Regions from separate parts of the Homo sapiens genome. Here regions 1 and 2 are each linked to region 3. The links come from fine-mapping of genetic effects on gene expression. A gene starts in region 3. Each other region holds a variant in brackets. All regions are shown on one strand. Distances are from middle to middle.

The links.
Region 1: its variant is fine-mapped to the expression of ACAD9-DT in T cells (GENCORD, PIP 0.95).
Region 2: its variant is fine-mapped to the expression of ACAD9-DT in cerebellum (GTEx, PIP 0.98).

Annotation. Positions count from the first base shown.
Region 1 is chr3:129,171,088-129,173,931 of GRCh38, forward strand. CNBP (CCHC-type zinc finger nucleic acid binding protein) reads right to left here. Exons shown (of 5, transcript NM_003418.5): 2 at 547-684; 3 at 359-451; 4 at 1-190. The coding sequence starts at 670. Among named protein-coding and RNA genes, the nearest start is that of CNBP, 11 kb to the right of the region's middle. The variant GCAGA/G (reference allele first, on the strand shown) is at 1,517.
Region 2 is chr3:129,573,512-129,576,355 of GRCh38, forward strand. PLXND1 (plexin D1) reads right to left here. Exons shown (of 36, transcript NM_015103.3): 10 at 2,255-2,344; 11 at 1,958-2,051; 12 at 825-979; 13 at 83-234. Among named protein-coding and RNA genes, the nearest start is that of PLXND1, 32 kb to the right of the region's middle. RefSeq lists an enhancer at 1-270. The variant G/A (reference allele first, on the strand shown) is at 1,288.
Region 3 is chr3:128,877,897-128,880,396 of GRCh38, forward strand. It overlaps ACAD9-DT (ACAD9 divergent transcript), which reads right to left and starts at 1,540. Exons shown (of 3, transcript NR_186174.1): 1 at 1,240-1,540. It overlaps ACAD9 (acyl-CoA dehydrogenase family member 9), which reads left to right and starts at 1,724. Exons shown (of 18, transcript NM_014049.5): 1 at 1,724-1,945. The coding sequence starts at 1,796. RefSeq lists enhancers at 594-1,445, 1,301-1,850, 1,446-2,298, 1,911-1,990, 2,299-2,500.

The sequences.
Region 1 (2,844 bases), 290 kb after region 3:
TTCACTTTGGTGCAGTCTTTTTGAATGTGTCCGAATTCTCCACAAGAATAGCATTTCTGCTCATCTGCATGGTCGCAGTCACGAGCCAGATGGCCTGGTTTGCCACAGTTGTAGCAGCATTGCTCTCGCTCTCTCTTGGGCTCCTTGCAGTCCTTGGCAATGTGGCCACCTCTACCGCAGTTATAGCAGGCTTCAACAATAAGGAAAAGAAACAGGCCAAGACTATAAAACCTTTACAAAGTGTTACGTTTTAAATTATACAATACAAAACCTCAAAGGTGGAAATGCTATACACAGTTGCATGTGCTCACCTCTCCAAGCTCTAGAGGGGTATGAAAAGGAAGTGTTAAATACTTACCATCCTCCTGAAGATCACAATCCTTGGCAAGATGACCAGACTCACCACAGCGATAACAAATGTCTGGAAGAGACGAGGAAACAAACTGGAAACCTGTTTTGAGCAAAAACAAAGAATTCGGCTAGTCAGACCAGTCTTGATACTAACAAATACTGAAGTACTTCAAATTTTTCTATTCGACAAAATACCTCTATCCGAGGTAAAACCACCTCTGCCACGGCTTCTCATTCCACGACCACGGCCTCCACCAGTAGGACATTCCCGGGCCCAGTGGCCAGATCGTCCACACTTGAAGCACTCATTGCTGCTCATGGCTGCAGTCAGATCTTTGAAATATTAAAAGTAACAGCATTAAACCACTGAAAGTTCTTTTAACTTTTATTCTCTATTAAATGTATTTTTGGAAAATTATTCTGGGGAAAAAAGCTAGCTAATATATTGGTTAAAAAAATAGCTGGGCATGGTGGCTCACGCCAGTAATCCCATCACTTTGGGAGGCCGAGGTGGGTGGATCATGAGATCGAGACCATCTTGGCTAACATGGTGAAACCCCGTCTCTACGAAAAATACAAAAAATTAGCCCGGTGAAGTGGCAGGCGCCTGTAATCCCAGCTACTTGGGAGGCTGAGGCAGGAGAATGGTGTGAACCCAGGAGGCGGAGCTTACAGTGAGCTGAGATGGTGCCACTGTACTCCAGCCTGGGCAACATTGAGACTCTGTCTCAAAAAAATAAAATAATCACACAACTACATGATTGGGTATTATAGACTTATTATAATATACACCTTGATAAAAGTGATGGAATTTACAGGGTTAGGGTCAATGAAAATCCATTAAGAGAAATAATTGGTAGTGGCTGGGCACGGTGGCTCATGCCTGTAATCCTAGCACTTTGGGAGGCTGAAGCGGGTGGACCATCTGAGGTCAGGAGTTTGAGACCAGTCTGGCCAACATGGCGAAACCCCGTCTCTACTAAAAATACAAAAAACAGCCGGGCATGGCGGCATGCGCCTGTAATCCCAGCTACTCAGGAGGCTGAGGCAGAAGAATCGCTTGAACCCGGGGGGTGGAGGTTGCAGTGAGCCGAGATCATACCACTGCACTCCAGCCTAGGGGACAAAGTGAGACAGACAGGCAGGCAGGCAGGCAGGCAGGCAG[GCAGA/G]CAGGCAGACAGGCAGCCAGGCAGGCAGGCAGGCAGGCAGGCAGGCAGGCAGACAGACAGACAGACAGACAGACAGACAGACAGACAGACACACACACACACACACACACACACACACACACACACTGGCAGTAATACTCATTCACTCATTCCAAGTCCAACTTAATGGACACATTTGCATGGTTATAAGGCCTATATAAGCTTTATTTTGGGCAAATAGAAGTCATTTATTTACTCACATCAAAAAATTGGAATAACCCAAACCAATGAAGCTGTAAAATGGATTCTCGGAGTGAGGAGTCAGTGAAGGAAAATACTCTCTTAACCTTAGCACCTGACGTAGTACCTAGTTATACTGCAGCACTTGCCTGGTGACTGAGATATTCCTTAGAACAGATATGTTAAAACAAATGCAAGATACAAATCTTATCTCTAGATGGTACAAGTACAGTAGGCCCTCTATATCCATGGGTTCTGCATCCATGGCTTCAACCAACCTTGGAATAAAAATATTCAGTGGAAAAGTTGCATCTGTATTGAACATGCAGACTTTTCTTGCCATTATTCCCTAAACAATACAATGTTAACAACTACTTATTCAGCATTTACATTGTGTTAGGTATTATAAGTAATCTAAAGATGATTTTAAAGTATATGGGAAGATGTGCAAAGGTTGTAATGCAAGTACTACACTATTTTATATTGGGAACTTGAGCATAGGAGGATTTTGGTATTTGAGGGAGTTTGTGGAACCACTTCACAGATACCAAGAGATGACTGTATAATAAAAATAGTAGGAAAACGACCATGAGTTACACCAAAGCGCTAATAATAGCACCTACAGCACTGGCAACATTTGTGTTTTGTTTTCTTTTATTCTCCCCTTTCCAAATGTTTCTGTAATGTAATTTTACATTTTAAACAATGCTACTTAGAATTTCATAATAAACTCCTTTAATTGGTTATCATTTTAAAATAAAAATAAAACTCCCACTAAAGCAAATGGATTTTGTACTTATGTAACAATCTAAAAATAAATTGAGGCTATTCTTAAAATAGAATGAAATGGAATAGAACATAATGAAAACAATGCAACTACATTTTCACACTTCCATATCTAAATATTTTTACCCTTAATTCCACTGTCAAACAATGGCACACAAAGTCGTATTTTAAATATCCTCTCAAACCTAAGCACAGGCACCATCATCTAGAAAAACATATTTCCAACTGAGTAAAACTTGAGTGGATAATCGAATTAGCTAACCTAACCACAGTGCCAAAGACCCAAAACGCAGTCCGAAAAATGGCAAGGTTCTCCACT
Region 2 (2,844 bases), 700 kb after region 3:
GGATGGGGAGGGAGGAGTGAGGAGGACAGAGCAGAGGCTGGCACTGCTGGAGAAGGTAGGTGGGGGCACCGTGGCTACTCACTCCTCCGACACCGTGTATCTGTCAGGCAGTGGCTCACAGGCCACACCACCAATCCACACGCCGTGGGCCACGTCACTGAGCCGCCGGCCCAGGTTCCTTCCTCGGATGGTCAGCAGGGTCCCACCGTCCAACGGGCCACTCAGGGGCTCAATCTGCCAGGTGACCCGAGAGAGGGGCGAATGGGATCTGAGGCTGCAGGCCAGCAGGCTTCTGCCCACAGTCACAGGCACCCAGCAGGGCACAGCCGTGCAGACCCACTGCTTAGAGGAAGGTCTGGAGGCTCAGGTGGGGCTGGGACTGTGGCCACTTGGCAGGTCACTGTGCTGGCAAGGAGGATGTGGGTGTGCATTACTGAGCCCACGTGGGCCTGGGGACGCTACTTAGGGGGTCTCCTGGAGGATGCTGAGGTCAGCTTCCAGGAGCAATGTTTGGCCATGTCATTGGTGGCTTTAGTGATCATGGTATCCCCTGAAACTAACAACATTCAGCCCTCGGTGTCTCCTCCACGCCACACTTCCAATGCCTTCTATAATTTATTCATTTCCTTATTTATTACTGTCCACCTCCCCCACTGAAACATCAGCTCTGTGAGGCAGAGCACTTCCTTTTGTTCACAGGTGATACTGCACCCATGTGTCGGTGTATGTGCCGTTTGGGTCCCCAAGAAGTGGGACCCTCGAGGGCACTGCGCATGCGCCGTGCCGGAGTGCGGGTGCCACGTGCCTCCACTGGGCATGCTTACCGCGTGGATCTCGGGGGCGGGGCAGGTGCCAGCCATGGGCTGCAGAGGCCCCCGCAGGCGGCAGCCATCACTCCACATGCACAGGTGACCCAGGTCTTCGCGGCCCAGGCACTGGGAACAGTCGGGGCTGCCCATGGCACAGTTATAGACCATGACTGGGGAGACACGGGGCAGCTCGGTCAGCCCCGCTCTGCGGTGCATGCCCCAACACCGCTGTGCCCTCCACACACAACAACTGTCAAGAGGTCTGCGCCCCATCATTGTGGTGCCCCACCCAGAGGAAGTCCTGATTCTGGGGGTCAGGATCCCCTGAGGTTCTTAGCCCCTTCCCCAAACCCCTGGGGCCTGTGCTGAGCACAGTGCAGCCCCTGCTTCATTGATTTCCTTCCCCTCACAGAGACTCCAGCTGGGAGCCTCAGGTCAGCCTCACTTTACAGAGAAGAGGCTGACGCTCAGACAGGAG[G/A]GACTCGCCTGAGCTCACGAGGCCTGTGGGTGGTAAAGCCAGATCCCACCCAGACCTCAGTGGGTCTGATCAACCCCGGCGGGGCCCTAGGATGCTGGGGATCCCTGAGTAATGTGGACTATGAGTACTTTGGGGCTTCAAACCCTCCAAGTAGCCCAAAGAGGAGGGCAGGGAGGGTTCTCCAGGACCTTGGGTATGCAGGGCCGTTCTGGGACCTTCATGGTGGGAATCTGGAGGGCACCACGTCCACCAGGGATGCCTGAGACTCCCCATGAACAGAGGAGCCCCTGGAGAGTGGACCCAACACAGACAGTCACAGCAACTGCACAGCTGCCACGCGAGGGGAGCTGACCACACCCCAGATGCCACGCTCAAGGTTGGGCGAGCCCTGGCTCATCAGGTCCTTACAAGCTCTGCAGAGGGACTGTGTCCTGTTTCCTATGGGGACGATCAGGCCCAGGAAGGCAGGGGAAACTATGCACGGAGACCCCAAGGCCTGGAGCCTGGCATGGCATGGCAGGGCTGGGATATGAGGCTGTGTGTGTGCTGGAGAACAATGGGGTGGGACATCTGCGGCTTTGGGGCAACCACTGGAATGAGTCGCACAAGGCTGAGCCCCACCCACTGCACTGAGGCCCCGAGGCCATGTGGGGCGGGTGGGGGTGCCCACCTGTCATGGGCTCAGGGCTGTCCAGGAATCGGGCTGGCCGCCCCTTTAGTTGGAGGCTGAGCGGGAACACCTGGCTCTTCCGGGTCGTGTGCAGCTGCAAAAGGGCAGAAAAGAGCATAGGGGGCATGGGCAATGCCTGGGGCTCTGCTGGGGATGGGTGTCATGGAGGCAGATGAAGTTGGGGCTGCTGGGGATGGGGGAACCAGAAGGTAGAGAGAGGCAGGGTGGGGTGAGGGGTACAGCATCTGGACTTAACGCAGGCCCGCCCTCCGCCCATGCTGGAGTCACCCCACTCACCACCACCTGGTCACAGCGTACAACAGACTCATTCACCCACACAGCCTCGAAGATCTCCTCCAGCCCAAAACTACACTCCAGGGCTGCACCCTGTGGGAAACAGGGAGTGGGAGGCGGGTTTGAGGAGAACCAAGCCAGCATGCATTGCCCTCTAACTCCAGCAGGACACCACGGGCTCCTGCTGGGAAAGGTGGGCTTGGTCGAACTGTCAGGCCTTTGCATGGGCTGTCCCGTCCCCCAAAATCCCCTTCCTGGCCATCACGTCCAATGTTTGAGGGAGGCAAGCAGTGCAGGAATGCCAAGAACTTTGGCCTCATGCGCTCAGCACCACTAAAAGCCTCTCCAGCATCCCCAGTGATCTAACCCAGGGGCCTTGTATTCAGCTCCTAAGGCTCCACTCCCAGCGGGGTTCCCCTGCTCTTCGAGCCTTCCCACCTCCCATCCTGCCCTACCAGGCCCTGCTCAGACGTGCCCCAACGCCCAACACGGCCAGACTCTCCTGCCCCGGCCTTTGCCTGAGCCCTCCCCTCGCCTGAACACCTGTCTTCCTTTCTACCACCCAGCAAAGCTCAACACAGCCTTCAGGATCC
Region 3 (2,500 bases):
AAAACAGGGATCGGAGTTTTTAAGGATAATTTGGCGAGTAGGAGCTCGGGAAGTGGGGAGTGCTGACTGGTTGGGTTGGAGATGGAATGATAGGGGGTTGAAGTGAGTTTTTCTTGCTGTCTTCTGTTCCTAGGTGGGATTGCAAAACTTGTTGAGCCAGATTACCGGTCTGGGTGAAAAAGCAGAGTGGCATTCTTCCTGGAGGAGCTGGCTGAAGATCTGTAGAGGGCCCATGTGCCACGTTCAGAGCACTGTTGGGCTGTGAGGTGCCAGGCATGCCCTGCCTCCTACGTGGGCCCCTATGGCCTGGCCTTGAAACCGCCACTGCAAAATTATAACCGAGACAATGAAAGAGATCTGACCTAACCAACTCCATCTTGCTTCTAACCTCCAAGCTGTCCTTGTTCATTCCTGAGCGTAGGCTGAACTAACCTTGGGAAGGAATGAGTTTATAGTTTAACTTCAAAACAAAAATAGCCCTTTCCCGGGAAAACAACAACAACAACAACAAAAAACAACCTCTTCTTGCCTGGGACCAGTTGGCCTTTGGAGGACTAACAAATTAGCTATAAGATTAGAAATTACAGTTTAGAGGCCATACAGCCTTTGGTTGCAAGAGTCTGAACGTCCCCCAAATTGTTCCTGGGAATAACATCACTGTTGTAAAACCTACCAACACCCAGACTGGTAATCTGGCTCAACTAGTTCTGCAATCCCATTCAGGAACAGAAGACAGCAAGAAAAACTCACTTCGGCCCCCTATCAGTCCATCTCCAACCCGACCAATCATGCACCTCCCACTTCCCGAGCTTCTACTCGCCAAATTATCCTTAAAAATTCCGATCCGTTTTTGGGGAGACCGATTTGGCTAATAAAACTCCCTTTCCAACACACCCGGCTCTGCGTGAATTACTCTCTCTCTATTGCAATTTCCGTCTTGATAAATCAGCTGTCTAGTCAGCGGGCTGTAACCTTGGGCGGTTACAGCCTGGCCTGTCCCATCCCATCCAATAGTTCCCATCTCTTCTCAGCTCTCTCTGTAGTTTCTCTTCCTCCGCCTGCCTTTTAAGTTAGTGTTTCCCAGGACAGAGGTGACTCAGTTGTATCCAGACCGCTCTGTGACTGAACACCCACTTTCTTTTCCTTTTCCAAAAAATATATGTAACATACATGTCAACTAGGAACAAAACAGTATCTCAGGAATCCACCATCCAGTTAAAAATGGACCCTTACCCTTACCGTGCCCCTGCAGAGACCCCAATACAGCGCATTTCCCTCATTCTTTTGCTTTTCTCAAGTTTTACCACGGCCTCGTGGCCACAAGTGACAAAAGAGACAAGTGGAGGCAGCTGAGCCGGCCTTTAGGTTTCTGTACACAGGGAGATTTCCCATGGCTGGCATTTATGGAAACAACCGCTGGTATGTGAAAAACAGGTCCGTCACCGCCGTCACGACGGCCAGAGATTATACCCGCCGAGATGCCCGCGGCCCAGGGCCTACAATTTCCTCCGGCCAGCTCCTTTGGCCGCGCAAGCGCAGTGGGGCCGGCGGGAAGCGTAGGCGTGTGACGTCATCAGGCGGCGCGGGCCAGCCAGGTGCACGTGACTAAGGCCTTGGGCGCGGCAGGTGGTAGCCTTCCCGCCCTTCTGGCCTCTCCATCCCCTGCTGCGGGGGACCGCGCAAGCGCAGTGAGTACTGCACGTTGTCGCGGGCCAGTAACGTCATCAGACGTGTGTGTGTCCCTGCGGCGCTAAGAAGGGGAGACTGAGGCTGAGGCTGGGGAACATCGGGCAGCATGAGCGGCTGCGGGCTCTTCCTGCGCACCACGGCTGCGGCTCGTGCCTGCCGGGGTCTGGTGGTCTCTACCGCGAACCGGCGGCTACTGCGCACCAGCCCGCCTGTACGAGCTTTCGCCAAAGAGCTTTTCCTAGGCAAAATCAAGAAGGTAACGCGAGCCCTGGGCGAACCCTTGCTGTCTGGCTCCCGCTTTTCACCCTCAGCTGCAAGACTGGTGTTGAACTTTGTGAGATTCCCCAAACCTGCCAGAGAGATACACCCTGCGGCCGAGGCGTGTTAACACTCCGGATTCCTGAGTTCCAGGAAAACCTTCCCAGAGAAAGGGTGAGACATTTCCAAGACGGGGGACCCTTGGAAATGTGGTGGTGACGTGTTCCAGCTAAATTTTGTCAGGGGAATTCGGAAAACTCTAGGCTAGGTAATTAACAAAGCAGCCTTCATCTCAGCTGGTCTGGTCTGGAAATGTGCGGGGCTTCCTCTCTGATTCCTAAACAGCTTACACCATGTCCCTCCTCAGTCACCTTCCAGCGCCCTGGGGCTTCCTTCCCCAGGTGAGCCCAGCGCCTCTCCCTGCCATTGAGGTTCCTCAGAAATCTGGCTCCAAGATGCTTCCCAAGGGTGGCACAACCCAGCCAATAGTAACAGTTTGGTTATAAAACACTCATTGTCTTCTTAGAGTTGGAAGACTTGGGTTTGGTCTTGG